Linked DNA regions of Homo sapiens. The protein of the gene in region 3 interacts with the protein of the main gene of each other region in a biochemical or structural test. Each region holds a gene or a part of one and is shown on either strand. Other genes may lie near its edges.

What was found.
Region 1: the proteins of RBX1 (region 3) and UBE2G1 form a complex in vitro, tested with the Homo sapiens proteins (8 studies listed by BioGRID).
Region 2: the proteins of RBX1 (region 3) and CDC34 form a complex in vitro, tested with the Homo sapiens proteins (84 studies listed by BioGRID and IntAct, with this or other methods).
Region 4: the proteins of RBX1 (region 3) and UBE2L3 form a complex in vitro, tested with the Homo sapiens proteins (13 studies listed by BioGRID, with this or other methods).

Annotation. Positions count from the first base shown.
Region 1 is NC_000017.11:4,363,675-4,370,969, forward strand, and holds the start of UBE2G1 (ubiquitin-conjugating enzyme E2 G1), read right to left. Parts: upstream 3,002-7,295; 5' UTR 2,643-3,001; coding exon 2,597-2,642; intron 1-2,596. UniProt on the Homo sapiens protein: Accepts ubiquitin from the E1 complex and catalyzes its covalent attachment to other proteins. In vitro catalyzes 'Lys-48'-, as well as 'Lys-63'-linked polyubiquitination. May be involved in degradation of muscle-specific proteins.
Region 2 is NC_000019.10:527,646-534,781, reverse strand, and holds the start of CDC34 (ubiquitin-conjugating enzyme E2 R1), read right to left. Parts: upstream 3,023-7,136; 5' UTR 2,851-3,022; coding exon 2,674-2,850; intron 1-2,673. UniProt on the Homo sapiens protein: E2 ubiquitin-conjugating enzyme that accepts ubiquitin from an E1 ubiquitin-activating protein, and catalyzes its covalent attachment to other proteins by an E3 ubiquitin-protein ligase complex. In vitro catalyzes 'Lys-48'-linked polyubiquitination.
Region 3 is NC_000022.11:40,954,372-40,961,394, forward strand, and holds part of RBX1 (E3 ubiquitin-protein ligase RBX1), read left to right. Parts: intron 1-7,023. UniProt on the Homo sapiens protein: E3 ubiquitin ligase component of multiple cullin-RING-based E3 ubiquitin-protein ligase (CRLs) complexes which mediate the ubiquitination and subsequent proteasomal degradation of target proteins, including proteins involved in cell cycle progression, signal transduction, transcription and transcription-coupled nucleotide excision repair.
Region 4 is NC_000022.11:21,605,714-21,612,736, reverse strand, and holds part of UBE2L3 (ubiquitin-conjugating enzyme E2 L3), read right to left. Parts: intron 1,881-7,023; coding exon 1,694-1,880; intron 1-1,693. UniProt on the Homo sapiens protein: Ubiquitin-conjugating enzyme E2 that specifically acts with HECT-type and RBR family E3 ubiquitin-protein ligases.

The DNA.
Region 1 (7,295 bases), on a different chromosome or scaffold from region 3:
GGGCCCGGTGGCTCACGTCTGTAATCCCAGCACTTTGGGAGGCTGAGACGGGCGGATCACGAGGTCAGGAGATCAAGACCATCCTGGCTAACACAGTGAAACCCCGTCTCTACTGAAAATACAAAAAATTAGCCGGGCGTGGTGGCGGGCGCCTGTAGTCCCAGCTACTCGGGAAGCTCAGGCAGGGGAATGGCGTGAACCCGGGAGGCGGAGCTTGCAGTGAGCCGAGATTGCGCCACTGCACTCCAGCTGGGCAACAGAGTAAGACTCCGTCTCAAAAAAAAAAAAAAAAAAAAAAAAAAAGATGCAGACGGGCACGGTGGCTCACGCCTGTAATCCCAATACTTTGGGAGGCCCAGGCAGGCGGATCACCAGGTCAGGAGTTCAAGACCAGCCTAGCCAGCACGGTAAAATCCCATCTCTACTAAAAATACAAAAAATTAGCCAAGCTTGGTGCCGCGCGCCTGTAATCCCAGCTACTCGGGAGGCTGAGGCAGGAGAATCACTTGAACCCAGGAGGCAGAGGTTGCAGTGAGCCGAGATCGCGCAACTCCACTCCAGCCTGGGCAATAGAGTGAGACTCTGCCTCAAAAAAAAAAAAAAAAATGCAATAAAGTTCTTTTTTTTTTTTTTTGAGACACAGTCTCGCTCTGTCGCCCAGGCTGGAGTGCAGTGGCGCCATCTCGGCTCACTGCACATCCGCCTCCCGGGTTCACGCCATTCTCCTGCCTCAGCCTCCCGATTAGCTGGGACTACAGGCGCCCGCCACCACGCCCGGCTAATTTTTGGATTTTTAGTAGAGAAAGGGTTTCCCCGTGTTAGCCAGGATGGTCTCGATCTCCTGACCTCGTGATCCGCCCGCCTCGGCCTCCCAAAGTGCTGGGATTACAGGTGTGAGCCACCGCGCCCGGCCCTTCTTTTTTTTGAACAGAGTCTCGCTCTGTTGCCCAGGCTGGAAAGCAATGGCGCGATCTCAGCTCACTGCAACGATGCCTCCCGCGTTCAAGCAATTCTCCCGCCTCAGCCTCCTGAGTAGCTGGGATTACAGGCGCCCTCCGCCACGCCCGAATAATTTTTTGTATTTTTAGTAGTGACGGGGGTTTCACCACTTTGGCCAGGCTGGCCCTGAACTCCTGTCCTAAGGTGATCCGCCAGCCTCGGCCTCCCGAAGTGCTGGGATTACAGGCGTGAGCCAGCGCGCCCGGCCTCAGTGCTTTTCCAGCACATAATTTTTATGAGTATCCTGTAGTATCATTAGAACTTCTCCATTTACTGCAAGCTAACTCCCCCTGAGCATCTAGAACTTTAATACTTGTCCAAACCTGCTTGCTCATGGTCTAATAATAAACCCAATTATACAATCTGTAAGAACCCCTGACAACCTTTTCCTTAAGAAGCCATAAAGGTGATTTAACGAACACCTCAAACTCTTAGTAAATGTATTTCAAAAACAGATTTCATCACTCCAGTCTTTGGCTTCTGCTGAGGGCTAGAGGCTACTGGTTTTAGAGTGGGTAGGGGGAAGATCGCTTGAACTGAGAATGACACACGCCGGGTGTTGTACAGCAGGGGTAAGTGCTGGTTCATTTCTCTTTAAATCTGGCAGCACGTGGGGCTGCATTGTGAAGCCACCAACCCGCCTCCCCCCTTCCACTCCGCACACGGACGTCTCCACTGCGCATGCTCCGCGCACACAGTCCTAGCAGAGTAGGAGCCAACCCCCTAAAAAGTCAACCTGGAAGCCGCAAACGGCCGGAGGCCGGGACAATGGGGGAGGGGGGCCGCAGGCTCCTCGGGGAGGCCGACCCGGCCGCCGCCCCGGGCCAGAGCCTGCGGGCGCAGCTCCGGGGTTTGCAGGCCTGCGCAGCAGCCGGAATCGCGGCGAGCACAAAGCCCGGAGCCGGCCAGCGAGCGGCTCTCCCCGCGGCCCGCTCCTACCCTCCCCCAGCCGGGCGGCGCAGCCGGAGCCCGTGCCAGGCGGAGGCAGGCGAGGCGGCGATCCGCACTCCGCCAGGGTCTCCGGCACCCTCGCGCCCGCGTGGAGGCCGCCGAGGCCAGCGCTTTTGTTGTCGGCCCCAACTCCGCGGACCCAGCGCCGCCCGGGGAGAAGTTTTGTGCGCCTCACCTATCCCGCCAGGGCCGGTCCCTTCCGCCCGCCCTCAGACACCGAGCCGGGGACTCGCAGCCGCACTGGGTCCGGACGCTCCAGCCGGCCCCGAAGGTCCGGCGGCCCCGGCAGCACCTGAACCCGGGACCCGCCCCTCCAAGCTGGCGGCCCCGGCCTGGGGACCCGCACACAGCCCCTCCCCCGCAACGTCCTACAGAACGGTGGGGGAGGGGACCTCCTCCTCTCCGACCCCCCGGGCGCCAGGCCCAGTCCCTGGGCCGGAGCTGGGTCGCGTCCCCGCCCCCAGTGCCCTCCAAGAGCCGGGCGAGAACGGCTGGGCCCGGCCGGGACCGGAGCCTCGAGGTCCCCACCCTCGCAGGCCCGGGCCCCTTCGGCAGTACGGCCGCTGGCCCGGGAGGAGAAGAGGGACTGGGCTGCGGCTGTCCGCGATCGCGGCCGGGCCCGGCGCCCCGCCGCCCGCCTGCTCACCTGCCAGCTGTCTTCGCAGTAGCAGTGCCGACTGCAGCTCCGTCATCCTCCCTGCCGAGGGCCCGGGCTGGCGCCGGGGCTTCCGAAGGGCTGGGGACAGGCTCTGGGGGCGGCTGGAGCGGGGTGTGCCGAGGAACCCGGGCCCCGCGACCGGAGCGCCGGAGCCGAGGAAGGCCGGGCTGAGGCGGCGGGAGCGGCGCCTCGCTGCCGGTGCGAGTCCGCTCGCTTCAGCTCTTTTCACAGCGACTCACGCCCGGAAGGGGAGGGTGCCCGGGCTGCCGCGGCGCGCACTGGGACTTCGCTCGCCCGCTTCCCTCCTTCAACCCGCCCGTCGGCCCCACCGGTGCCTTCCCCCGCCACTGCCTCACTGCGCGCAGGGCCGCTCGGCGCAGGCGCGCTGAGACTGCCGACTTGGGAAGCGTCCCGCCCGCTAGCCCGACCCCTCGGCCTCCCGCCCCGCCCCCGGCGGCGGAACCCCGCCCCTTGAGCGCAGTTGTCCCGTCCGCCGCCATTTTGGGAAGGTCGACGCCCGGCTGCCAGCCCAAGCCTCCGCTGGTAGACGCCCCGCGGACGCCATGACAAAGAGGTCGCAGAGGGTCAAATACAGCCTCTGGATTGAAGCAGTGGATATAGGAGCGAAGAGGCCAGAAGAAGTGGTAGATGTCTAGTCCTTGGCGAGCGCCCAAAAGCCATCTAACACTGCCACATGGTGTGCGAAGTAGGAATTGTTAGAAAGCCGAAGTTAGTACTGGTGTGCCCCATTTTAACCAAACATCAAAATAGAGGCAATATATGATGATAACTCACTTTACATGAAGAGTGCACAAAAAAAGCCACCGCGTCCGGCCCTATTATTATTGAGCCACCGAGACCGGCCCTGTTATTATTATCATTTATGGACGGCAATTCTCTCTGTCGCCCAGGCTGGAGTGCAGTGATCATAGCTCACTGCAGCTTGGAACTCCTGGGCTTAAGGGATCCTCCCATCTGAGTCTCCTTAGTATCTGGGATTACAGGTACACACCACCATGCCCTGCTATTTTTTTATTTGCTTTATAGAGATCGGGGGGTTTGACGGGGCGCGGTGGCTCATGCTTGTAATCCCAGCACTTTGAGAGGCCGAGGTGGGCAGATCACCTGAGGTCACGAGTTCGAGACCATCCTGGCCAACATGGTGAAACCTGGTCTCTACTAAAAATACAAAAATTAGCCCAGCCTGGTGGCAGGCGCCTGTACTCCCAGCTACCAGGGAGGCTGAGAAAGGAGAATTGCTTGAACCTAGGAGGCAGAGATTGCAGTGAGCCGAGATGGTGCCACTGCACTCCAGCATGGCCGACAGAGAGAGACTCCGTCTCACAAAAAAAAAAAAAAAGGAGGGGGGGGCCAGAGGTCTCTCTGTGTTGCCCAGGCTGGTCTCAAACTCCTGGGTTCAAGCAGTCCTTCCAACTCGGCCTCCCAAAGTGTTAGCATTACAAGTGTGAACCACTGCCCCCTATCAAATAGACCAAAGGGACCATTTTGATATTTCACTTTACCAAATCAAGGAAATTTACTTCTATTCCTAGTTTCTTTCTTTTTTATTTTATTTATTTATTTATTTATTTTTTGAGACAGCCTTGTTCTGTCGCCCAGGCTGGAGTGCAGTGGCGTGATCTTGGCCCACTGCAACCTCTGCCTCTCAGGTTCCCGAGTTAAAGCAATTCTCCTGCCTCAGACTCCTGAGTAGCTGGGACTACAGGCGCACGCCTCCAGGCCAGGCTAATTTTCTTTCGTATTTTAGTAGAGATGGGGTTTTACCATGTTGCCCAGGCTGGTCTCGAACTCCTGAACTCAGGCAATCCGCCTGCCTCAGCCTCCCAAAATGCTAGGATTATAGGCAAGGGCCACTGTGCCCGGCCTATTCCTAGTTTCTTAAGATTTATTTTTTGTAAAAAAAAAAAAAAAAAAGATTTATTTTTTGTAATAATTTCCAAATCTGGTGAAAGATCAGGGCTGGATAAAGGTTTAGAAATTGAACCTAATCCTTAAACAGTGGGAGGCCCCTGAAAAGTTTTAACTAGGAGTAGAAAAATAGCAGACTTGCATTTTGAATGTTTTGCTGTGGCTGCAGAGAATTGATGAGGGAGGGAGGGTCAAGACCAGTGCCCTGCAGGCTGTGGTGGCTCTCATCTGTAATCCCAGCTCTTTGGAAACTCCACGCAGGAGGATCACTTGAGGCCAGGAGCTAGAGACTAGCCTGGGTGACAGAGCAAGACCCTATCGCTACAAAAAAGTGTGTTTTGTTTTGTTTTGAAACAGTCTCCCTCTGTCGCCCAGGCTGGAGTACAGTGGCACAATCTCAGGTCACTGCACCTCTGCCTCCCTGGTTCAAGTGATTCTCGTGCCTCAGCCTCCTGAGTGGCAGGGATTACAGGCCTGTGCCACCATGGCTGGAGAATTTTTGTATTTTCGGTAGAGACAGAGTTTCACCATGTTGGCCAGGCTGGTCTTGAACTCCTGGGCTCAAGTGATCCACCCGCCTCAGCCTCCTAAAGTGATGGAATTGCAGGCATGAGCCACTATGCCCAGCCCAAAATATTTTTTTAATAAACATTTTAAAATTTTAATAAAAATTTTTAAAGCCTGGAGACCCTTATGGAGATTGTGGCAGTAACTAAGACTTGGATTAAGGAGTGTCCATAAAATATTTAGGCCTTGGTGGCCAGGCGAGGTGGCTCACGTCTGTAATCCCCGCACTTTGGGAGGCCGAGGCGGGCAGATCACCTGAGGTCAGGAGTTCGAGGCCAGCCTGACCAACATGGAGAAACCCCGTCTCTATTAAAAATACAAAATTAGGGCCTAGGGCAGTGGTTCACTCCTATAATCCCAGCACTTTGGGAGGCCAAGGCAGGTGGATCACGAGGTCAGGAGGTCAAGACCAGCCTCACCAACATAGTGAAACCCCGTCTCTACTAAAAATACAAAAATTAGCTGGGCGTGGTGGCCAGCTAATAGTAGTCCCAGCTGCTTGGGAGGCTGAGGCAAGAGAATCGCTTGAACCCAGAAGGCAGAGGTTGCAGTGAGCCGAGATCGCACCACTGCACTCCAGCCTGGGCGACAGAGCAAGACTCTGTCTCAAAAAAAAAAAAAAAAAAAAAGGCGAAATTAGCCGGGCGTGATGGTGCATGCCTGTAATCCCAGCTACTTGGGAGGCCGAAGCAGGAGAATTGCTTGAATCCGGGAAGGGGAGGTTGCTGTGAGCTGAGATTGTGCCATTGCACTCCAGCCTGGGCAACAAGAGTGAAACTCCGTCTCAAAAAAAACAAAAAACGAAAAAACAAAGAATATGTAGGCCTTGGTGATCTATGGGATATAGGAAAGAGCAGGGAGCACCACAGGTGACTCTCCTGACCCGGGTGACTGGGTGCCATTGGTATGACAGACCAAGTCCAAGGAGTGGGTCTCGCTTTGTTGGTTAGGCTGGTCTCAAACTGGTCTCAAGCGATCCTCCCGCCTTGGCCTCCCAGAGTGCTGGGATTACACGCGTGAGCCACTGCACCTGGGCCCTCTTGCTTTTGAGGTTAATGCCATCCAGCTGCAGCACTTGCCACTCCCCTTTGGTGCTGTGACCTGCAGACCCATTCATCATGGACTTTTCCTCCTGCCTCAGAGCCCTTCTCTTCATTCTACTCCAGCCCTCCACCTTGGGGACCTAATTACCCACATGAATGACCCGTCCGGTACCCCTGCCTCTCACCACTTGACTTCCTCTCCTTCCCTTCCCACCAGCTGGCCTCTCCGTGTTCCCGTGGGACAGTCTCGCCACCCAAAATTCCACCACACCCCAGTACTTGGTTTCAAGCCACGCACCCTGACCACCATTCCTTATCCTTCCAGCTTACTGGCTTTAGCGTTCACGCCACACAGCTCTTCCACACCAACAAGACCCCATTCTGTGTACCACTTTTTTTTTTCTTTTCTTTTTAAAACAGAGTCTCGCTCTGTCAACCAGGCTGGAGTGCAGTGGTGCGATCTCGGCTCACTGCAGCCTCCGCCTCCCGGGTTCAAGTGATTCTCCTGCCTCAGCCTCCCGAGTAGCTGGGACTATAGGCGCGTGCCACCATGCCTGGCTCTTTTTTTTTGTATTATTGGTAGAGATGGGGTTTCACCATGTTAGCAAGGATGGTCTCAATCTCCTGACCTCGTGATCTGCCCACCTCGGCCTCCCAAAGTGCTGGGATTAGAGGTATGAGCCACCGCGTCCAGCCCTGTTTACCACTTTTTTACTATCTGTCATTTCCTTCCTGTTCTCCTCTTCCTTCTCTTCTGAGCTTAGAGAGTAGTCCATTACTACAACCCTTCTCTTCATACGCCCTCAACAAACTTGGCTGTTTGTCTCCTTCTCTCACCATTTTAGTGCCTGGCTGATCCTCAAGCCTGAATGAACGCTTGCACACCCAACTGTCTAACTATTGCTTTATTTAACAAACATTTACTGAGCAACTGCTATGAGCTAGACACAATCCTAGGACTCAAGGTCTAGGTGTAAACTACACTGACCAGGTTCCTACCTCATGACAGTAACATCTAATGGGACAGAATAGTCAAAAAGTAAACAACAGCCAGGCGTGGTGGCTCACGCCTATAATCCCAGCAATTTGGAAGGCCGAGGTGAGTGGATCACCTGAGGTCAGGAGTTGGAGACCAACCTGGCCAACAT
Region 2 (7,136 bases), on a different chromosome or scaffold from region 3:
AGGGAGGGCACTCGGGGGTCTTGGATCGTGGGCGAGGTCTGGACAGGGAGGGCACTCGGGGGTCTTGGATCGTGGGCGAGGTCTGGACAGGGAGGGCACTCGGGGGTCTTGGATCGTGGGCGAGGTCTGGACAGGGAGGGCACTCGGGGGTCTTGGATCGTGGGCGAGGTCTGGACAGGGCGGGCACTCGGGGGTCTTGGATCGTGGGCGAGGCCTTGACAGGGAGGGTACTCGGGGGTCTTGGATTGTGGGCGAGGTCTGGACAGGGAGGGCACTCAGGGGGTCTTGGATCGTGGGTGAGGTCTGGACAGGGAGGGCACTCAGGGGGTCTTGGATCGTGGGCGAGGTCTGGACAGGGAGGGTACTCGGGGGTCTTGGATTGTGGGCGAGGCCCCTCCCGGACAGGCAGGGCACTTTGGGGGTCTTGGATCGTGGACGGGCCCCTCCTGGACAGGGAGGGCACGCGGGGTGTCTTGGGGGGTGTCCTCTGTTTGACAGGGAACTCACTGGTGCCCCGTAAGGCAAGTGACTTGGCCGCGGCCACAGAGCAAGGCTGGAACTTCAGTCTCAGAACTGTCCTGCGGTTCCCCAAGACTTCAGGCCCCCCAAGCCTGGTGCTGGGTTTCAGGCGGCAATCCTTGACAACAGCCAAGGCCTCATCTGTACCAAACCCCACCAAGTCCCAATGAGCCTCTTATTTTGGGCACCTCTAAGAATGTCTTTTCCCCGGAGCAAACCCAGGCTCAGAAAAGGAAAGCGCCCTGCCAAGGGCAGACAGCAAGTCGGCTGTGGAGGGCTCTCTCTGGCGGCCCCTGCCCCAGGGCTCACTTTGGCTCCTGAAGGAACAGCAGCTGCAGGCAGTGGCTGGGCAGCAGCGGCCCTGGGCACTCAGCAGGTTCTGTATTTCCACGCTCCCCCAACTCCCTCCCAGGCACAGCGGGAAGGGAGAGTCCTCGTGGGTGGCAGCACCCCCGTCTCAACACTGGCTTCTGAGGACTGACCCTGTGGCAGATGTCTAGAGGCCCCCTCCCTGGGAAATCCGGAAAACCGGATTATCCCCTAATGCTGGCCCAGGAAGCTCTGCCCACAATCCCTGGCAACCGGTCTGGTGGGCACAGCAGCCAGAAACCCCCATCCCCTCCTTCCAGAACAGCAGCCGCCTCACAGGCCTGGCTTCGAGGTGGGGCTGCGGCTCCTCAGCCAGCTGCTCCCCCAAGCAGACAGAAGGGGCTGGCGGAGGAGCTGCTAAAACCATTTGGCAACCTCGAGACCCAAACTCTGTTCCCTGTGTGGGGACGCAGGATTCCAGATGCAGAACCCACGGGCGTCCCACTCTCTGCTCAGGAATCGCCCCCAGCAGACCAGGCTGCTGCCCTCACAGCCGCTGAGCGGGTGCGGTTCAGACACTAATTAGCTCGGAGAGCAGACACATATCGTGCGGGAGGCATCGGTCCCTCGGCCCCACGCCCGCAGCTGGCCGGGGCAGAGCGGGCCGGGCCCTGCAGTGTCGTGTCGTGTCCAGGCTCTTGGCAGGAAGTGACGGTGGGAGGGGGAGATTCCTGGACAGGGTGCTCGTTCCCCACCGCTCACACAGGGCCCCTCGCTTTGTCCCTCTGGCCCCAAGAACGAGGTCCCTGAACGCTAAAAGAAGTCAAAGGTCACGTCTGGATCGTGAGATCAAGAAAACTGCCCTGGTTTTGGCCTGAGTCCTTTTCACATGAGACAGAAACAGCCTCCCCGCTCCCAACAACAACAAAAACATCCAGAAACTGCTTGGAATTAAACCGCCAGAGGGCAGAAGAAACGGCCCAGAACTCGGGGTTTGGGTCCCAAGAAGCCACCTGTTCAGTGGACTCTGAGAAAGGCCAAGACCAGCTGGGATGAGCGAGCCCGGAGCTTCTGAGGTCGGGGTCCGGGACGCGGGCCCGAGCCGGGAGGCCTGGAGAGAGCTGCAGGGAGCAGGTGGGAGGCACGCCCCTACTTCGGCCTTCCCGAGGGCGCAGGTTACATAAAGCAGGGGATGGAGCCCAGGGCGCCTGGCCGGCTGCTACTGGCAAGGGTGGCCGCTTTCCAGGCGGGTCCTGGCTGCCAAGGCTCATCCGGGCCTTTGTTGGAGACTGAGCGAGTGGCCGCGCCAGCCACCCCCAGGCTGGCCTCGCTCCCCCGCTCACGGGCCCAGCTCCCCAACAATAGCAGCTACGGGGTCTGGGGGGGCCTCTTTGTCTCCTCCGGGGAGGGCGGGGAGGGCAGCTGAAAGGCCGGCGCGGCCTGGGCTCCGCTCCCTCTTTCTCGCAGGGGCGGAGGGGGAGGCAGCCGGGGTCCAGCCCCCGCCAAGGAGGAGGTGGGCAAGAGCCCCACGCCCAGATGCTACAGGGAGGGCCCCCGGCCACCCCTCCGGGGGCCAAGAGCCTAACAGGGGACCGGACGATGCCTTGAAGGGAACTGGGGATTTTCGAGGACTGCAGCAGAGGCTGAAGGTCCCCGAGACGGTCCGAGGAGGGGGCCGGGCAGAGCTGGGTGGGGGAACGTGGCCATAGAAGGGAAACGAGCCCAAGCCAGGAGGCTTCGGGGCCCGCCCAGCAACAGCGCTAGGACCGCGGGGCAGGGAGCTGGTTCCCGGCGCCCGAGGTCGCTCGTGGGCTCCGGGACCCGGGCGGGGGTCGCCGCGCTCACCTTGAAGTAGCCGCCCTCGTAGTAGGTGTTGGGGGGCCCGAAGATGGCCACCTCCCAGTTGTATAGATCGCCCTCGTCCACCAGTGTCACGCGGAATCCCTCGACCGGCTCTTCCTGCAGCCCCTTGAGCTCCAGCAGCAGCGCCTTCTGCGAGCTGGGCACTAGCGGCCGAGCCATGGCGGCGGCGGAGGGGCCCGGGGTCGGAGCAGCGCGGGGCCGCGCGACCACCGCGAGTTCGCGAGACGGGCCGGGCCGCGCACCGTCCGGGGGGGAGCCACCGGGGCCGCCGCCTGCCTCCTCCTCTGCGCCGCCGCCGCCGCCCGGGGACCCCGAGCGCTCCAGCAGCTCTGGCGCCGCCGCCCCACCGGCGCTTGCCTTGGCCGGGCCCGCGCGCCCCGCCCCCCGCTGCGCCTGCGCGCACCGCCTGGCCCCGACTGCGCCTGCGCTCCGCGGCCAGGTCCGACTTGCGCCTGCGCGCCCGGCCGCAGGGGACGCCGGGAGGTGGAGTCCCGGCCCCGGTCCCGCCTACGGCGCCGAGCGCCTCCGCCGGGAGGGAGGGTTCGAGCGCGCAGCCCCGGGCTCTTCCGATCCCCGAGGCCGCCGCCGTCGCCCCCTGCTCGACCAGCACCGCGGACGCTGTGCGCAAGGAGGCGGGCAGGGCTGCTCTGCGCCGTCACCGGCCCGGTCCCCCGGCTTTGGGGTTGTTTTGTGACGTGCCGGCGCGGGGCGGGGCCGCGGGCGGTGAACGGGGCGCGGCGCGGGGTCCTGACCGGGACCGGAGGGGCAGGGCCGGTCCATCCGGCGCGACCCCGCGTCCCCGTCTCCGTTTCCCCGTCTGTGCAGGGGACGGGCGCGAAGTCTGTCCTAGGGTCGCGCTGGCCACGCGGAAGGGAGGAAGGGGCGGGAGCGAGGCGGGATCCGCAGACCTGGCTTCCAGGCGCGGCGCTGCCTCGGTTCCCCCGACAGCGGGAGCTCTGAGAAGTGGGCGAGGTCGGGGAGGGCTCTGAGGGGTGGGAGGGGCGAGGGCTTCCCTGGTCCCCGTTGAAGTCACCATGTGGTGTGAGGCGAGTGCAGGCGCTGGAGCCATCAGAGGTTGGCAAGGTGCTCCTGCCCCCCAGAGAAACTGGGAAAGAGGCCTACGCCGGCCAGCATCGGCTCAGCACCTGACCCGGGAGAGGCGCCAGCCCCACGGAGCCCCCACCCCAAGCTGAGCCCGAGCCTGGCTGTGCCCTCCTCCCAGCCTGACCTTTGTCCTACCCGAGTCTTTTTTTTTTTTTTTTTTTTAAATGAGACAGAGTCTCGTTCTGTGGCCCAGGCTGGAGTGCAGTGGCACAATCTCACTGCAACCTCCGCCTCCCGGGTTCAAGCTAGTGTCCGCCTCAGCCTCCCGAGTAGCTGAGATTACAGGTGCCCGCCACCACGTCCGGCTAATTTTGTATTTTAAGTAGAGATGGGGTTTCACCATGTTGGCCAGGCTGGTCTCGAACCCCTGACCTCAAGTGTGTTGTTAGGTTTTGAAAGGAAGGGGAGGATGCAGTTTGGACTAATAAAGGGATCCGTCTGCGTCGGCCTCCCAAATGCTGGGATTATAGGCATGAGCCACCGCGCCCAGCCCACCTGAGTCTTGACCCCAGCTGATTCCGGGCATCACTGTGACCCCACCTGACTTCTGACCTGGCTCAGTGGCTGCCCAGACACCCACATGCTCCTTGCTGTGAAGCTTGGTCGGGAGAACTGGCCGTGGTGAGGACGGGGCAGCCCAGCCTCCCCTGAGTCGTGCCCGTGACGGGTGGCCCTGCCCTCGGACTGTGCCAGTGGCATTGTTGCTATGCCCTGGGTACACACAGCTGCATCAACATACAGGCCGGGCACGGTGGCTCACGCCTGTGATCCCAACACTTTGGGGGGCCGAGGCGGGCGGATCACAATGTCAGGAGATCGAGACCATTGTGGCTAATATGGTGAAACCCCGTCTCTACTAAAAATACAAAAAATTATCTGGGCGTGGTGGCGGGCGCCCGTAGTCCCAGCTACTCGGGAGGCTGAGGCAGGAGAATGGCGTGAGCCCGGGAGGCGGAGCTTGCAGTGAGTCTAGATAGCGCCACTGCGCTCCAGCCTGGGCGACAGAGACTCCGTCTCAAAAAAAAAAAAAACCAAAAACAAAAACCAGTCTGGGACCAGGGCCACTCTGTCCCGCAGGTGCCCCAACACCTGGCCCCGGCTTCATGAGTCTGGTCCCCGGAAGAGGACCAGCAGGCAAACCTGTCTGGGGAAAGGAAAACAGCATCAGGAGTGGAGAGGGAGGGAGGGATCCAAGAAAGAGCTCTGGGCCGAGCGGTCACTTCCAGAGCTGTCCAGGGCCGAGGCCGAGGCGTCCTCACCCGTAAGGGCCTCTGGGCCTCCTCCCTCAGGCCCCTCTGCCCGGCACCCTGGGGGCCTGGAGTAAAAGGAGGGTCTCGGGACTAGTGGGGCCTTCTGGCTGTGGCCCCTTCACCAAGGTTCCCAGGGTTTTGTGAGCCTCAGTCTCTTCCGTGCCACAGGTCGTGGATATATTGCCAGCATCATGGAGCCGGCAGGCAGCAGCTCATGGGTAAATTAATGCTAATTAGAATTAACCACGATTCCTTCTCTAAGGGCTCCCAAGATCTCTCTTCTTCCGTACACCCACATCCCAGGAAGCACTGTGTGGGTGAGGGAGGTTTTCTTTCTCTCGCTTTTTTTTTTTTTTTTTTTTTTTGAGAAGGAGTCTTGCTCTGTCGCCCAGGCTGGAGTGCAGTGGCACGATCTTGGCTCCCTGCAACCTCCACCTCCCGGGTTCAAGTGATTCTCCTGCCTCAGCCTCCTGAGTAGCTGGGACTACAGACGCATGCCACCACGCCCTGCTAATTTTTTGTATTTTTAGTAGAGAAGCGGTTTCACCGTGTTAGCCAGGATGGTCTTGATCTCCTGACTTCGTGATCCGCCCGCCTCGGCCTCCCAAAGTGTTGGGATTACAGGCGTGAGCCACCGCGCCCGGCCTGGGTTGGGGAGATTTTCAAGCCCCTCCAGCTGGTCCCACAGGGCCCCGACCCCCAGGGAGGCTCAGGCTCACAGCACCCGGGAGCGGTGGACACCAGGGGCTTCCACCTGCCTGCTTGGGGGCTCCCTACTCTGTGGGAACGGGTTCGAATTGGACTGACGCAAGCCCTGGCTGCAGGGAGGGGCCATCCCATCAGTTCCCAGGGCCCCCACCCTGGGCTGCAATGATTGGTTCAGGAACAAGCATGTGACTCCTGACGTCCAATGAGATTCAGCTCTGGGACATTTCTCTGGGATCACAGTGCTGGGGTGGCTGAGCTGGAAGGACCTGGGGCTGGAGTTACGGGGTCATGGTGTCACCACGGGGCCTCCGAACAAAGGCGGCATCACAGGAAAGCCGAGCCGGCTGATGAGAGGGGAAACGTTGATAATCCTATTAGTGATCCTGCATCATGCTGTTACCTGACCTCCCCTGGATGTTCCAATGATGCAAGCTCATGAATTCTTGCCTCTTAGTTCGTTTGTGTTGAGATGGAGTCTCTCTGTGTCACCCAAGCTGGAGTCCAGTGGCGCAATCTCAGCTCATTGCAACCTCTGCCTCCCAGGCTTAAGCAATCCTCCCACCTGTCTCCGAAGTAGCTAGGATCACAAGCGTGCACTGTCACACCCAGCTAATTTTTGAATTTTTAGTAGAGATGGGGTTTTACCATGTTGGCCAGGCTGGTCTCGATCTCTCAGCCTCAAGTGATCCTCCTGCCTTGGCCTCTTAAAGTACTGGAATTACAGGCGTGAGCCACCACGCCCAGCCTTTTTAGTTTATTTTCCTTTCCTCCCTCCCTGCCCCCGTTCCTGTTGCTCAGGCTGGCCTTGAACTCCTGGGCTCAAACAGTCCTCCCACCTCAGCCTCCCAGGTAGCTGGGACCACACGTGCACACCACCACAACCAGGTTAAATTCCTTCTTCGTGCCGGGCGCCGTGGCTCACACCTGTAATCCCAGCACTTTGGGAGGCCGAGGAGGGTGGATCACCTGAGGTCAGGAGTTCCAGACCAGCCTGACCAACATGGAGAAACCCTGTCTCTACTAAAAATACAAAATTAGCCGGGCGTGGTGGCACATGCCTATAATTCCAGCTGCTCGGGAGGGTGAGGCCCAAGAATCGCTTGAACCTGGGAGGCGGAGGTTGTGGTGAGTCAAGATCACGCCATTGCACTCCAGCCTGGGCAACAAGAGTGAAACTCCATCTCAAAAATAAATAAATAAGTAAAAATAAATTCCTTCTTCGTTAATTAAGCCAGTTTGAGTTAGGTTTTCCATCACATGGCAGAGAAGAACCTTAAATTCAAATCTAGTTTCTGCCACGACCTTGGAAATATCGCTCAAACATTAAACCCAGTCTCAGGTTTATTTAATTAATTTATTTATTTAATTATTTTTTTTTTGAGA
Region 3 (7,023 bases):
AATAAAAAGGAAATCATTGCCAACATCTAAATAAATAATTAATTGCACTAAAGAAATTTCATTTAAATCTCCACATATTTTATTACATGTAGTGGTCAGCACATAGTGATCTGATTATAGTCTTTGATGAACTGATTTCCTGTCCTTACAGTAGAAGGGACAAGAATGTTGATCACACCAGGAACAGTTGAGGTTACTTTTTCATCCGGGAACTAAAATGATTTGTTACTGAGGCCAGAAATGGAGGAAAGAAACTTTAAGTTTCTAGAAATGGAATTATAGGAACTTATTTTTCAGATCACTCACCTGCCTTTACAACTTTGTCTTGAGTCACTCCTGCTCACTCTGTTAGTTTACCTGGATGCTTTTTTTTTTTTTTAACTGACCACGGTGGCCAAAGCAGCCATGGCCCCGGCCAGTTTTCCATTTTTTTTCCTTATTCTGAGATGGAGTCGCCCAGGTTGGAGTGCAGTGGCGTGATCTCAGCTCACTGCAACCTCCGCCTCCCGAGTTCAAGTGATTCTCCTGCCTCAGCCTCCTCAATAGCTGGGATTACAGGCACCTGCCACCACACCCAGCTAATTTTTGTATTTTTAGTAGAGACACAGTTTTACCGTGTTGGCCAGGCTGGCCTCGAACTCCTGACCTCGGGTGATCCGCGTGCCTCTGCCTCCCAAAGTGTTGGGATTACAAGCATAAGCCACCATGCCCGGCCTGCTTTTCCATTCTTAAGTGTCCATGCTCTATTTTAGAGCCCTTAAATAGCCTAGTCTTTTTTGCCTAGAATATTCTTCACCTCTTCTCTTCCTTGGTTTTGTCTAACCCAGCACTGTCCAATCTGAATGTAAGCCAGTACAAACACGTATATAATTTTAAATTTTCTTTTTCCTTTTTTTTTTTTTTTGTTTTTTTCAGAGACGGGATCTCGCTTTGTTGCCCAGGCTGGTCTCGAACTGGCTTCAAGTGATCCTCCCACTTTGGCCTTCCAAAATGTTGCGATTATAGGCGTGAGCCACTGTGGCTGGCCTGAAATTTTCTAGTATCCACATTCATAAAGTAAAAAGAAAATAAAAAGGTGAAATTAATGTATTTTATTTAACCTTATATAGTCAAAATAGTTTTACTTCAACATGTAATTGATGTAAAAAAAAAATGAGATATTTTACATTCTGTCTTTGTACTATCTTTGAAATTCTGTGTATTTTACACTTACAGCACATCTGGATTCAGACTAGCCACATTTCAAGTGCTCAGTAGTCACATGTGGTTAATAACTACTTTATTGTGCAATGTAAGACTAACCCATAGTTGAGCTTTAGATCTTATCTTAAACTTGCTCAGATGTTTTCAACTTGAAAAGCACGAATCAAATATTTTCTGTTGGAAAGCAGTCATGGCTTATACTGGTCATGTATTGCCCTTGGCTTCTTTGAGCTTTGACACTGTTTATCTCTTCACACTACAGCCAAGGAAGATCAGCACCTACCATAATGTTTAATATAGATGCCGTGAACCCATCACAGAAAAACATATGCAGGGTTTCAAATGTGTTTGGGTGGGGTCTTTGATTACATGCTTGCCAGTTTCTCGGCCTTGCATTTTCACAAGGAGTTATACCCAGAGAAAATTTTACTTTCTTGGGGCTCTGTTTTGAAAATAGTTAATGATTTTTAATGATTTTATATAACCCTGATTTTTTTTTCTCTATATTTAAGTCAGTGTATATGTGTCTCTGGATATGAGAGAATGTACTTCTTAAAAGGACCACAGAAGACAAAGGCGATCTATATTGTCTTCTCTTAGAGTGAAATGCTTGAGACATCATATTAGGCTTTCAGTGGGATACCTGTTTTGTTTCATAATATATTTTGAATGTCAGATGAAGTAGGATATTGAAATCCTATAACAAAAACTTATGAAAGTATTTTCTAAGTCCTATCTTTTATTTATCCAATGAATATATCCTGAGCATCCTGGTAGGCACCAGGATAAAACAATGAGTGAGATCGGGCAGGTCTTTACCTTTTTTTTTTTTTTTTTTTTAAAGACAGAGTCTCTGTCGCTCAGGCTGGAGTTCAAGTGATTCTCCTGCGTCAGCCTCCCAAGTAGCTGGGACTACAGGTGTGGGCCACCTCACCCGGCTCATTTTTTGTATTTTTATGAGAGACAGGGTTTCACCATGTTGGCCAGGCTGGTCTCAAACTCCTGACCTCAGGTGATCCATTCGCCTTGGCCTCTCAAACCGCTGGGATTACAGACATGACCCATTCAAACTCCTGGCCTCAAAAAAACCACCCCCCTTGGCCTCCCAAAGTGCCGGGATTATAGGTGTGAGCCACCATGTCCGACCTCAAGTCTTTACCTTTAAGAAACACACTCTTAGGCCAGGCGTGGTGGCTTACACCTGTAATCCCAGCACTTTGGGAGGCCAAGGCGGGCAGATCACAAGGTCCAGAGATCGAGACCATCCTGGCTAACAAGGTGAAACCCCGTCTCCACTAAAAATACAAAAAATTAGCTGGGTGCGATGGCGGGCGCCTGTAGTCCCAGCTACTTGAGAGGCTGAGGCAGGAGAATGGCGTGAACCCAGGAGGCGGAGGTTGCAGTGAGCTGAGATCGCGCCATTGCACTCCAGCCTGGGTGACAGAGTGAGACTCCATCTCAACAACAACAAAAAAAAGAAACATACTCTTAGGCGGGGCGCGGTGGCTCATGCCTGTAATCCCAGCACTTTGGGAGGCTGAGGCGGGGGGATCATGAGGTCAGGAGATCCAGACCATCCTGGCCAACACAGTGAAACCCCATCTCTACTAAAAATACAAAATTAGCCAGGCGTGGTAGCACGCACCTGTAATCCCAGCTACATGGGAGGCTGAGGCAGGAGAATCACTTGAACCTGGGAGGCAGAGGTTGCAGTGAGCCGAGATCCTGCCATTGCACTCCATCCTGGACAAAAAGAGCAAAACTCTGTCTCAAAAAAAAAGACACTCTTGGCCAGGTGAGGTGGGTCACACCTGTAAACCCAAGACTTTGGGTGGCTGAGGCGGGCAGATCGCTTGAGCCTAGGAGTTCAAGACCAGCCTGGGCAACATGGCGAAACCCTGTCTCTACAAAAAATTAGCCAGGCATGGTGGCTTATGCCTGTGGTCCCAGCTACTTGGGAGGCTGAGGTGGGAAGATCCCTTGAGCCCGGGAGGCAGAGGTGACAGTGAGTCAAGATTTTGCCACTGCACTCCAGCCTAGGTGAGAGAGTGAGACCCTATCTCAAAAAGAGAAACACTGTTTATTTTTTATTTTTATGTATTTTTTTGTTAGAGACAGGGTCTCACTCAAGTGCCCAGGCTGGAGCGCAGTGGCACAGTCATAGCTCACTGCAGCCTTGACCTGGGATCAAGCAGTCCTCCTACCTCAGCCTCTAAGTAGCTGGGACCACAGACGTGCACTACCACACCTAGCTAATTTTTTTTTTTTGGAGGCGGAGTCTCACACTGTCACCCAGCTGGAGTGCAGTGGCACGATCTCGGCTTACTGCAGTCTCCACCTTCTGGGTTCAAACAATTCTCCTGCCTCAGCTTCCCGAGTAGCTGGGATTACAGGTACCCGCCACCACACCTGGCTAATTTTTTGTATTTTTAGTAGAAATGGGGTTTCACTATGTTGGCCAGGCTGGTCTCGAGCTCCTGACCTCATGATCACCCATCTCGGCCCCCAAAGTGCTGGGATTACAGGTGTGAGCCACCGCATCTAGCTGCTAATTTTTTAATTTTTTGTAGAGATTGGGTCTTGCTGTGTTGTCCAGGCTTGTCTTGAACTCCTGGACTCAAGCAATCCTCCTGCCTTGCCCTTCCAAAACACTGAGCTTACAGGTGTGAGCCACTGCCCCTGGCCACACACTTTTATTATAGACACTGAGGAGAAGTCTGAGTGCCATAACTTAAAAAAAAAAAAAGGATTTATATGGGAAAAGAACTTAGCAAGTAAAGAAAAAAATGGATTTATCATTTTTATAAAGACAATTTTTGTTAAAGATGAAAGTAAGAATCTAGATTTAGCAACGGTTGTATTTTAATAAATCTTGTCTGACCTTAAATGAGTAATTATATACATAGCTCTAAGTAAATAAGAATGATTATGGCTGTGCCCTAGTCGGATTCTGAAGACTTCCTCTTTTAAGTCCATATTGATTCTGCATGCCCTCCTGTACCTTTGTATTTATTTTATTTTACACTGTCTCCTTCCTTGGTTGTATTAAGGAGTTGCTGAAAAATCAAATATGTGAGGTTTTATTTTCTCTATTACCTCTGGTAATCTTATTCCTGATGATGGGGAATCTTCATCATCTTAGACCCAGCCTTGGCCCAGAAGATGTTAGCATCTACCTAAAACTACAGATCCATCAGTATTTTGGTTTGGTTTGGTTTGGTTTGGTTTGGTTTGGTTTGGTTTGGTTTGGTTTGTTTGAGACAGAGTCTTGCTCTGTTGCCTCGGCTGGAGTGCAGTGGCATGATCTCGGTGCACTGCAACCTCTGCCTCCCAGGTTCAAGCTATTCTCCTGCCTCAGCCTCCTGAGCAGCTGAGACTGCAGGTATGCACCAGCATGCCCAGCTAATTTTTGTATTTTTAGTAGAAACAGGGTTTCACCATGTTGGCCAGTCTGGTCTCTTTAACTCCTGACCTCGAGTGATCCACCCGGCTCGGCCTCCCAAAGTGCTGGGATTACAGGCGTGAGCCACCACGCCCGGCCCCGTCAGTGTTTTGAAAGTGTAATCTGTCTACTCTTGAGATGAAGCCATTGCTTCCTTAACAGTTCTTTGGTGGTACAGCGTTTTTATCAAAGCTTAAAGGTCCCCAAGCTTTATAAATCACATGATAGGCTTCTGCCTTGGCAGGGGTGTGACATGAACCCGTTATGTGCCACTGTCAACCTGTTCTGGGTTGACAGTGAACAGTTCCTGCCCGTTTAAACTAACTGGACTCAACCCCTGTACTTACTCTCTGCAACAAAAGCTGGAAAACTTTTGTATTGAGCACATTTTACACTAATATTTAATCATTTTCCCTGCTATATCCCTTCTTATTTGGTACTCTAGATTGCAGTAATATCCCTCCTATACATTTTTGTTCTTTGTTAGGAATTTTGTAGTAAAGAATGAATCTGGCCGGGCTCGGTGGCTCACGCCTATAATCCCAGTACTTTGGGAGGCCAGGACGCGTGGATCGTGTGAGGCCAGAAGTGCAAGACCAGCCTGGGCAACGTGGGGAAACCCCATCTCTACTAAAAATACAAAAAATAGCCAGGCATGGTGGCGCATGCCTGTAGTCCCAGCTACTTGGGAGGCTGAGGCGGGAGAATCACTTGAACCTGGGAGACAGAGGTTGCAGTGAGCCAAGATTGCACCAGTGCCCTCCGGCCTGGGGGGACAAAGCTAGACTCTGTCTAAAAGAAAAAAAGGAATGAATCTTGGTCGGATGCAGTGGCTCACGCCTGTAATCTCAGCACCATGGGAGGCCGAGGCAGGCAGATCACTTGAGGTCAGGAGTTAAAGACCAGCCTGGCCAACATGGTGAAACCCCGTCTCTACTAAAAATACAAAAAATTAGCTTGGTATGGTAGTGCACACCTGTAATCCCTGCTACTTGGGAGGCTGAGGTGAGAGAATAGCTGGAACCCGGGAGGTGGAGGTTGCAGTGTGGAGATTGTGCCACTGCCCTTCAGCCTGGGCAACAGAGCGAGACTGTCTAAAAAAAAAAGAATGAATCTGTATTTGTCCCGTATTTCTTCTATTTATAGAAATAGTTTTTGTTTGCTTGTTCAAGTACCAAGAGCCTAATTTGCACTTGGCATAGAAAGACCAGGTCCCTGCTCTGTGGGAGCTTTGAGTTGAGGGGGAAGGAGGGAGGTCAGGTATGTAAAGAGATACTCATAATTGATGTGTTAAGAGTGCCTGAAGGAGAGGAAAATGACTCAGGGTGGAAGAGTCAGGAAAAGCTTCAGTCAAGAAGTAGGGATTTAAGCTGGGTCTTGAAGGGTGGGGAGGACTTGAGAGTGATAGGAGGAGGAGCATGTTCCAGGTATGGCAGGGACGAAGGAAAGGACTCTACCGTGAAGGGAGCCTGAAGGGTTCTTTAGGTTAGTAGTGCCATGGCCACAGTCAAAAGAAAGACCCAGATCAAATTTAAACACGATAATGTACCTTGAAACAGTTTTGATTTTCACTTTAATAATTGTGGCTCTTATTTAGCTAATTTTATAATACATAGTCTTCCTCTAAGTTAGAGGATCCAGCTTAAAGGACATCATATTTACTTTTCTCTGCCATTCTTTTAATTATAGTAGTGTATTCCAGTTTCAATAAGTTCTTAAATACACTGCATAGACCCTAGATCCCTTTTTTGTTTGTTTTTAAGATGGAGTCTCGCTCTTTCACCCAGGGTAGAGTGCAGTGGCGCGATCCCAGCTCACTGCAACCTCTGCCTGCCAGGTTCCAGCGATTCTCCTGCCTCAGCCTCTCTAGTAGCTGGGATTATAGGCATGCGCCACCCACCACACCCGGTTAATTGTTTGTATTTTTAGAAGAGACAGAGTTTCGCCATGTTGGCCAGGCTGGTCTCGAACTCCTGACCTCAGATGATCTGCCTGCCTCGACTTCCCAAAGTGCTGGGATTACAGACATGAGCCACCACGCCCGGCCGAGCCACCGTGCCTGGCCTTTTTTTTTTTTTTTTTTTTTTTGATAACAAGGTTTTGCTCTGTCACCTAGGCTGGAGTGCAGTGGTACGATCATGGTGCACTGCAGCCTCAACCGCCTGTGCTCAAGCCATTCTCCTGCCTCAGCCTCCTTAGTAGCTGGGACCACAGGCATGTGCTACCACAACTGGCTAATTTTTTTATTTCTAGAGATGAGATGTTGCTGTGTTGCCCAGCCTGGTCTTGAATTCGTGGGCTAAAGTGATCCTGCTGCCTTGGCCTCCCAAAGTGCTGGGATTACAGGTGTGAGCGACTGTGCCTGACCCAATTCTTTA
Region 4 (7,023 bases), about 19 Mb from region 3:
GGGAGGCGGAGGTTACAGTGATCTGGGATGGCATCACTGCACTCCAGCCTGGGTGACTCCGTCTCAAAAAAAAAAAAAAAAAAAAAAAAAAAAGAAAAGAAAAGAAAAAATCGGCTGGGTGCGGTGGCTTACGCCTGTAATCCCAGCACTTTGGGAGGCCGAGGCGGGCGGATCACGAGGTCAGGAGATCGAGACCATCCTGGCTAACATGGTGAAACCCCGTCTCTACTAAAAATACAAAAAATTAGCCGGGCGTGGTGGCGGGTGCCTGTAGTCCCAGCTACTCGGAAGGCTGAGGCAGGAGAATGGCGCGAACTCGGGAGGCGGAGGTTGCAGTGAGCAGAGATCGCGCCACTGCACTCCAGCCTGGTGACAGAGCGAGACTCCGTTTCCAAAAAAGAAAAGAAAAGAAAAGAAAAAACCAGGCACTGAGAAGAACTGTGTCAAGCTTTTATAAACATCAGCTTGTACACAAACAAGGACCAAGCCCACTAGAGACTGTTCTGCCCTGACTGAATGTTTAGCACCCACTCCTTTCTTCTACTCAGTGTGGGAGTCTAATGGGCACCTTTCATGGTGATTACTTCCAACAAGTGAGGCTTGATTTTTCTTGCGCAAGGCTTTGAACTCCACCTTCCAAGGCTTTTTTCAATCACTAAAACAAGGGACCTCCTCAATCCCTGTGCAGGTCAAAAGTTCAGCTGAGTTATTCCCACAGGGACTGGTGGCACCTCAGCCATACTTTGCGTGCACCTGGTAAGGTAGGAGTTCTCTGGACTCCGTCTGATCTGGCATCAGGAAGGACCCATGAGCCCCTACCCTAGAGCAGCACCCCTAAAAGAAACCCTCCACTTGCAGCCTCTCAAGTGCCAGCTTCATCCACTCTAATCTAAACAGACTTTATACTGGTTTAGGTACTTAAAAGGAAGCCATCAAAATATGAGATTAGGACTTCAAAAGAAAGTCTAGAATTAAATGAAAACCAGACACAGTCCATAACAAACTAGTCACTTCTAGGGGACAAAAGGGAGGACAACCACAATACTGACTCAAATATTCTTCCCAGAAGAATGAGCATGTTTATGTTCACACAGCCACACACAGACATGTGCACCACGCACAGCCACATCCAACTCCAGGGAATCCCAGGCCCACTAAAGCCAACTACGTGCCTTCATCTGGGAATACTGCCCTTACATCTGCCTCTGTCCCTCCCCTCACATCACCCGAGCAACTAGGCTCTAGCCCATGCCCTTCCTATAGCCTGGAAGGCCCTCTCCAACCTCCTTTCCTCCTTCAAGTCTGAGTTCAGGCACTAACTACTGCATGAGGCCACCTTAAATCCCACTCTCCCTTCCCCTTGTAGGCAGCCCCACAGTCCTTCATCCCTTCCAGGGACCAGTGCCTGCACCTCTCTGCACCAGCAGCAAGCCACTGGGCTTGTCTGTCCATGTGTGTTCCCACTGTGGATGGCAGCCCAGGGCTGAGCACTGGAAAGGCCTCCTCAAACCCTATACAGGTCAAAAGTTCAGCTGAGATGAGCCATTCCCACAAGGTCTGACAGGACCTCAGCTACATTTTTCGTGTACCTGAAAGATTCTCTGGATTCTGTCTGATCTGGTACCAGAAGCCCCCACCCCAGAGCAGCACCCCCAAAGACCCCCTCCGAGGAAGACACAGGCACATGTCTTACCTTGGTCGGTTTTGGTTGCTGGCTTCCAGTTTTCGGCACTAATTACTGGCAGACAGACCTGCCCCTTTTCGTCGATGTTTGGGTGATAGATCTTTGTTTTAAATGTGATCTTCGGTGGTTTGAATGGGTACTCTGCTGGAAAGTTGATTTCGATTCTGAAGGCTCCCTTATCATATGGAGGGTTGTCCTGGAAGGAAAGAGAGATCAAAATGAACACACCATGGTTCATAAACCTATGGCCAAGACAGGAATGTTTTAATTGTTTATCTGAAAAATCAATTTATTTCAAGGGATTCAAGTATCAACTGAAGCCCTGCCACCTTCAGGACAACCCAGCCACCCAAAAGTATTTCTAGAGCAAGCTATCTGCTAAACTGAGAAGGGGCTTGAGATTGATGTCCTGGTCTCTTCATACTTTTTTAAAAAATAGACTTTACTTTTTAGAACACCTTTAGGTATACAGCAAAACTGAGAGGAAAGGACAGAGAATTCCTAAATACCCCCTGCCCCTGAACACACACAGCTTTTCCCACTATCAGCATCCCTCACCAGAGGGGCAAATTTGTTACCACCAATGAACCTTTTACCTTAACACATCATTACCACTCAGCTTCCCTAGTTTATGTTAGGGCTCATACTTGGTGTTGCACATTCTATAGGTTTTGTGTGGTTATCAGACATGATAGCTGGAATCATGCAATATGTAGCTGCTATGTCTGAATGTATCTCCCCAAAAATCTTATGTTGAAACCTAATCACCAATGTGATGGTATTAGGAGTTGGGACCATTGGGAAGTGATTAGGTCATGATGGGATTGGTGTCCTTATCAAAGAGGCCCCTGAGAACTGCCTTGCCCTTTCCATCATATAAAGACACAGTGAAAAGGCACCATCTATAAACCATGAAGCCGGCCCTCAGTTGCCACTGAATCTGTTGGCACCTTGATCTTCAGACTTCCCAGCCTCAATAAGTGAGAAATAAATTTGTCGTTAGAAGCTATTTGTTCTTTTTATTATTATTATTTTTTCAGAGTCTGTTGCCCAGGCTAGAATGCAATGGCACGATCTTGGCTCACCGCAACCTCCGCCTCCTGGGTTCAAGCAATTCTCCTGCTTCAGCCTCCCAAGTAGCTGGGATTACAGGCACCCGCCTCAATGCCCAGCTAATTTTTGTATCTTTAGTAGACATGCGGTTTCACCATGTTGGCCAGGCTGGTCTTGAACTCCTGACCTCAAGTGATCTGCCTGCCTCGGCCTCCCAAAATGCAGGGTTTATAAGCGTGAGCCACTGTGCCCAGCCGTTACTTGTTTTTCCCCCACTTCATACTTACTTATTTATTTTTGACAGGGTCTTGCTCTGTTGCCCACTGGATGGTGGCGTGATCTTGGCTCATTGCAACCTTGACTTCACAGGCTCAAGCAATCCTCCCACCTCAGCCTCCCAAGTAGCTGAGACTACAGATAGGCACCACCACCCCCAGCTAATTTTTTTGTATTTTTATAGAGACTGGGTTTTGCTATGTTGTCCAGGTTGGTCTCAAACTCCTGGGCTCAAGAGATCTGCCTGTCTCGGCCTCCCAAAGTACTAGGATTACAGGTGTGAGCCACTGCACCCAGACTCATTTCTTCTTAGTGTTGAATGTCATTTGTCTAGATATACCACAATTTATTTATCCATTAACCCACTGAAGGACATCTTGGTTGCTTTCAAACCTTAGCAATTAATGAATAAAGCTGTTATAAGCATCTGTGTGGATACAAGTTTTCAATTCATTTGGCTAAATACCAAGGAATGTAATTGCTGGATCCAATGGTAAGACATATGTTTAGTTTTGTAAGAAACTGCCGGCCGGGCGCGGTGGCTCACGCCTGTAATCCCAGCACTTTGGGAGGCCAAGGCAGGTGGATCACGAGGTCAGGAGATCGAGACCATCCTGGCTAACACAGTGAAACCCCGTCTCTACTAAAAATACAAAAAAAAATTAGCTGGACGTGGTGGTGGGCGCCTGTAGTCCCAGCTACTCAGGAGGCTGAGGCAGGAGAATGGTGTGAACCTGGGAAGCGGAGCTTGCAGTGAGTGGAGATTGCGCCACTGCAGTCTGGCCTGGACGAAAGAGCGAGACTGAGTCTCAAAAAAAAAACAAAACAAAACTGCCAAACTGGGCCAGGAGCAGTGACTCATGTCTGTAATCTGAGCACTGTGGGAGGCCAGGGAGGGAGGATCACTTGAGGCCGGGAGTTCAAGACCAGTTTGTGAAACATAACAAGACCCCATCTCTACAAAAAAAAAAAAAAAAAAAAATTAAATATATTAGCCTGGGCCAGGCTCAGTGGCTCACACCTGTAATCCCAGCACTTTGGGAGGCTAAGCTGGGTAGATCACTTGAGGTCAGGAGTTCAAGACCAGCCTGGCCAACGTGGTAAAACCCTGTCTCTACTAAAAATACAAAAAAATTAGCAGAGCGTAGTGGTGCACGCCTGTAGTCCAGCTACTTGGGAGGCTGAGGTAGGAGAATTGCTTAAACCCGGGAGGCAGAGATTGCAGTGAACTGAGGTTGCGCCACTACACTCCAGCCTGGGTGACAGAGCAAGATTCCATCTCAAAAAATAATAACAAAATAAATATATTGGCCTGGCATGGTGGCATGTGCCTGTAGTCTCAGCTACTTCAGAGGCTAAGAAGGGTGGACTTCTTAGGCCCAGGAGTTTGAGAATGCAATGAGCTGTGATCACGCTTCTGCACTCCATTTTGGGCAAGAGAGAGACTCAATTTCTTTGTTAAAAAGATTTTATGAATAAATAAATGAAAGAAACCGCCTAACTTGTCTTCCAAGGTGGCTGCACCATTTTGCATTCCCACCAGGAAAGAGCGAGAGTTCCTGTTGCTCTACGTCCTCAGCAGCATTTGGCAGTGTTCTGGATTTTGGTCATTCTAAGAGATGCACGGTGTTATTTATTGTTGTTTTCTTATTATAGAGTTTTAAGTGTTCTTTGTCCTTTAGACAGTCCTTTATCATATTATGTTTTTGCAAATATCTCTTGATCTTTTCTGAAGATACAAGTAGAGTTGTACCAGAGGTAAGTTACAACCCAACCAGAATACACTGTGAGTACTAGAAGTCCAAATAACTGCCTTGATGCCAAGTCCTGGCCAGCTCAATCTTCCCAGGGTAGAAACAGTAGTCAGCTCAATGGCTGGACCCTGGGGACCTGAGCTGGTCACTCAACAGGTGATCACCAGGCAGGGCCAGCACCATGCCCTAGCCCCTTGCCCCTAGAACCACCCGAAAACCACCTTTGGGGCCTGGACACTCTGATGGCCCCAGGAGCCTGAGAGATGACTCAGCAAAGAGTCTTTTGGCCTCTCCCCAACCCTACCTATCTCCAGAGCTGGGGAAGCCCTTCCCATTGTACTCCCTTTTCCCTCACCCAGGTCTGCCATGGCACTTGCCATGGCACACCCAACCCAAAGAAATCCAAGCTTCACAGAGAGCCCAAGAACAATCTTTTTTTTTTTTTTTTTTTTTTTAAGACGGAGTCTCGCTCTGTCGCCCAGGCTGGAGTGCAGTGGCGCGATCTCAGCTCACTGCAACCTCTGCCTCCCTGGTTCATGCAATTCTCCCACCTCAGCCTCCTAAGTAGCTGGGATTACAGGTACCCGCTACCCTGCCCGACTAATTTTTTTTTTTTTGTATTTTTAGTAGAGATGGGGTTTCACCATGTTGGCCAGCCTGGTCTTGAACTCCTGACCTCAGGTGAACTGCCGGCCTCGGCCTCCCAAAGTGTTGGGATTACAGGAGTGAACTACTGCACCTGGCCCCAGGAACAATCTTGACAGCCCTACACCCCAGCCCCATATCTTCAAGCCGTGGCCTAAGTACGCACTCCAGTAAACAGAGCTCCTCTGCTGGGGAGCAAGGCTGGCGTGCGCCAGTTCTCCACATTCTCCTACATCCAAGCCCTGCCCTGGGAGGGGAGGCATGGAGCAAGGGCCTTAAAGGATGGATAAGATGACATAAGGCTGAGGAGTGGAAGAGGCCTCCCAGGCAGAGAGGACTAAAGACTAGATGGCAGGGACTTGGAAGGAATAGCATAGAGCAAGACAGGAGGCTGCGGGCAGGCAGTGTGGCCCCAGGGCTACTGAAGCCACGCGTCCAGGTCTGAATCACCACCGAGCAGCTGAAACCACTGTCAGCATATTCATCTGTGGGGAGTCACCCAGGCTGGAGTGCAGAGGTGCAATCACGGTTCACTGCAGCCTTGACTTCCCGGGCTCTAGCAATCCTCCCACCTCAGCCTCCCAAGTAGCTGGGACTACAGGCATATGCCACCACACTCAGCTATTTTTTTATTTCTTATAGTGATGGCGTCTCACTATGTTGTCCAGGCTGGCCTCAAACTCCTGAGTTCAAGTGATCCTCCCAAAGTGCTGGAGTGCTGGGATTATAGGAGTGATGCACCATACCCAGCCAGCTTTTAGTTTTCAAGAGGAGAATTAAATGGTGGTGGTGGTGGGGGGAAGTAAGTAAACATCATTGTCATTTACACTGCTTGAGCCATGTAAAAATAGCTTTCCCTCACTGGGTGTGGTGGCACACTGGGAGGCTGAGCCAGGAGAATCACTTGAACCTGGGAGGCAGAGGTTGCAGTGAGCCAAGATTGTGCCACTGCACTCCAGCCTGGGCAACAGAGTAAGACACACACACACACACCACACACACACACACATACCACACACACGCGCGCGCGCACACTTTCCTGCATGACTTTTGGTTGGTGAAATCTGCTAAAGGTCTTCACTGATTGTCCAGGACTGACCAACCTCCCCTGTTCCCCACTGTGGGCCAGGTCCTGTCCGAGGAGCTGGGGTGAAGCATGAATGAGGCCATCTGGCCCCAAGTTAGCAGGTCTAGCCTCAGACTTTGCCTCTTCCTAGCTTAAAGAGTCTGAGAATGTTCCTGTACATCTGTAAAATGGGAGTAGCAACAGCCTGTACCCAGAGTTTATGATGAGAGATAAGGACTATAAAGTCCTACATGCCTGACACATGGGCAAAGCTCAAGAGAAGCAGATTTGGCTGGGTGCAGTGGCTCATGCCCGTAATCCCAACACTTTGGGAGGCTAAGGCAGGAGGATCACAAGAGCCCAGGAGGCTGAGGCTGCAGTGAGCCATGATCACACCTCTACACTCTAGCCTGGGTGACAGAATGAGAACCTGTCTCAAAAAAGCCAAAAACAGACTGGGCGCAGTGGCTCATGCCTGTAATCCCAACACTTTGGGAGGCTGAAATGTGCAGATCACTTGAGGCCAGGAGTTTGAGACAAGCCTG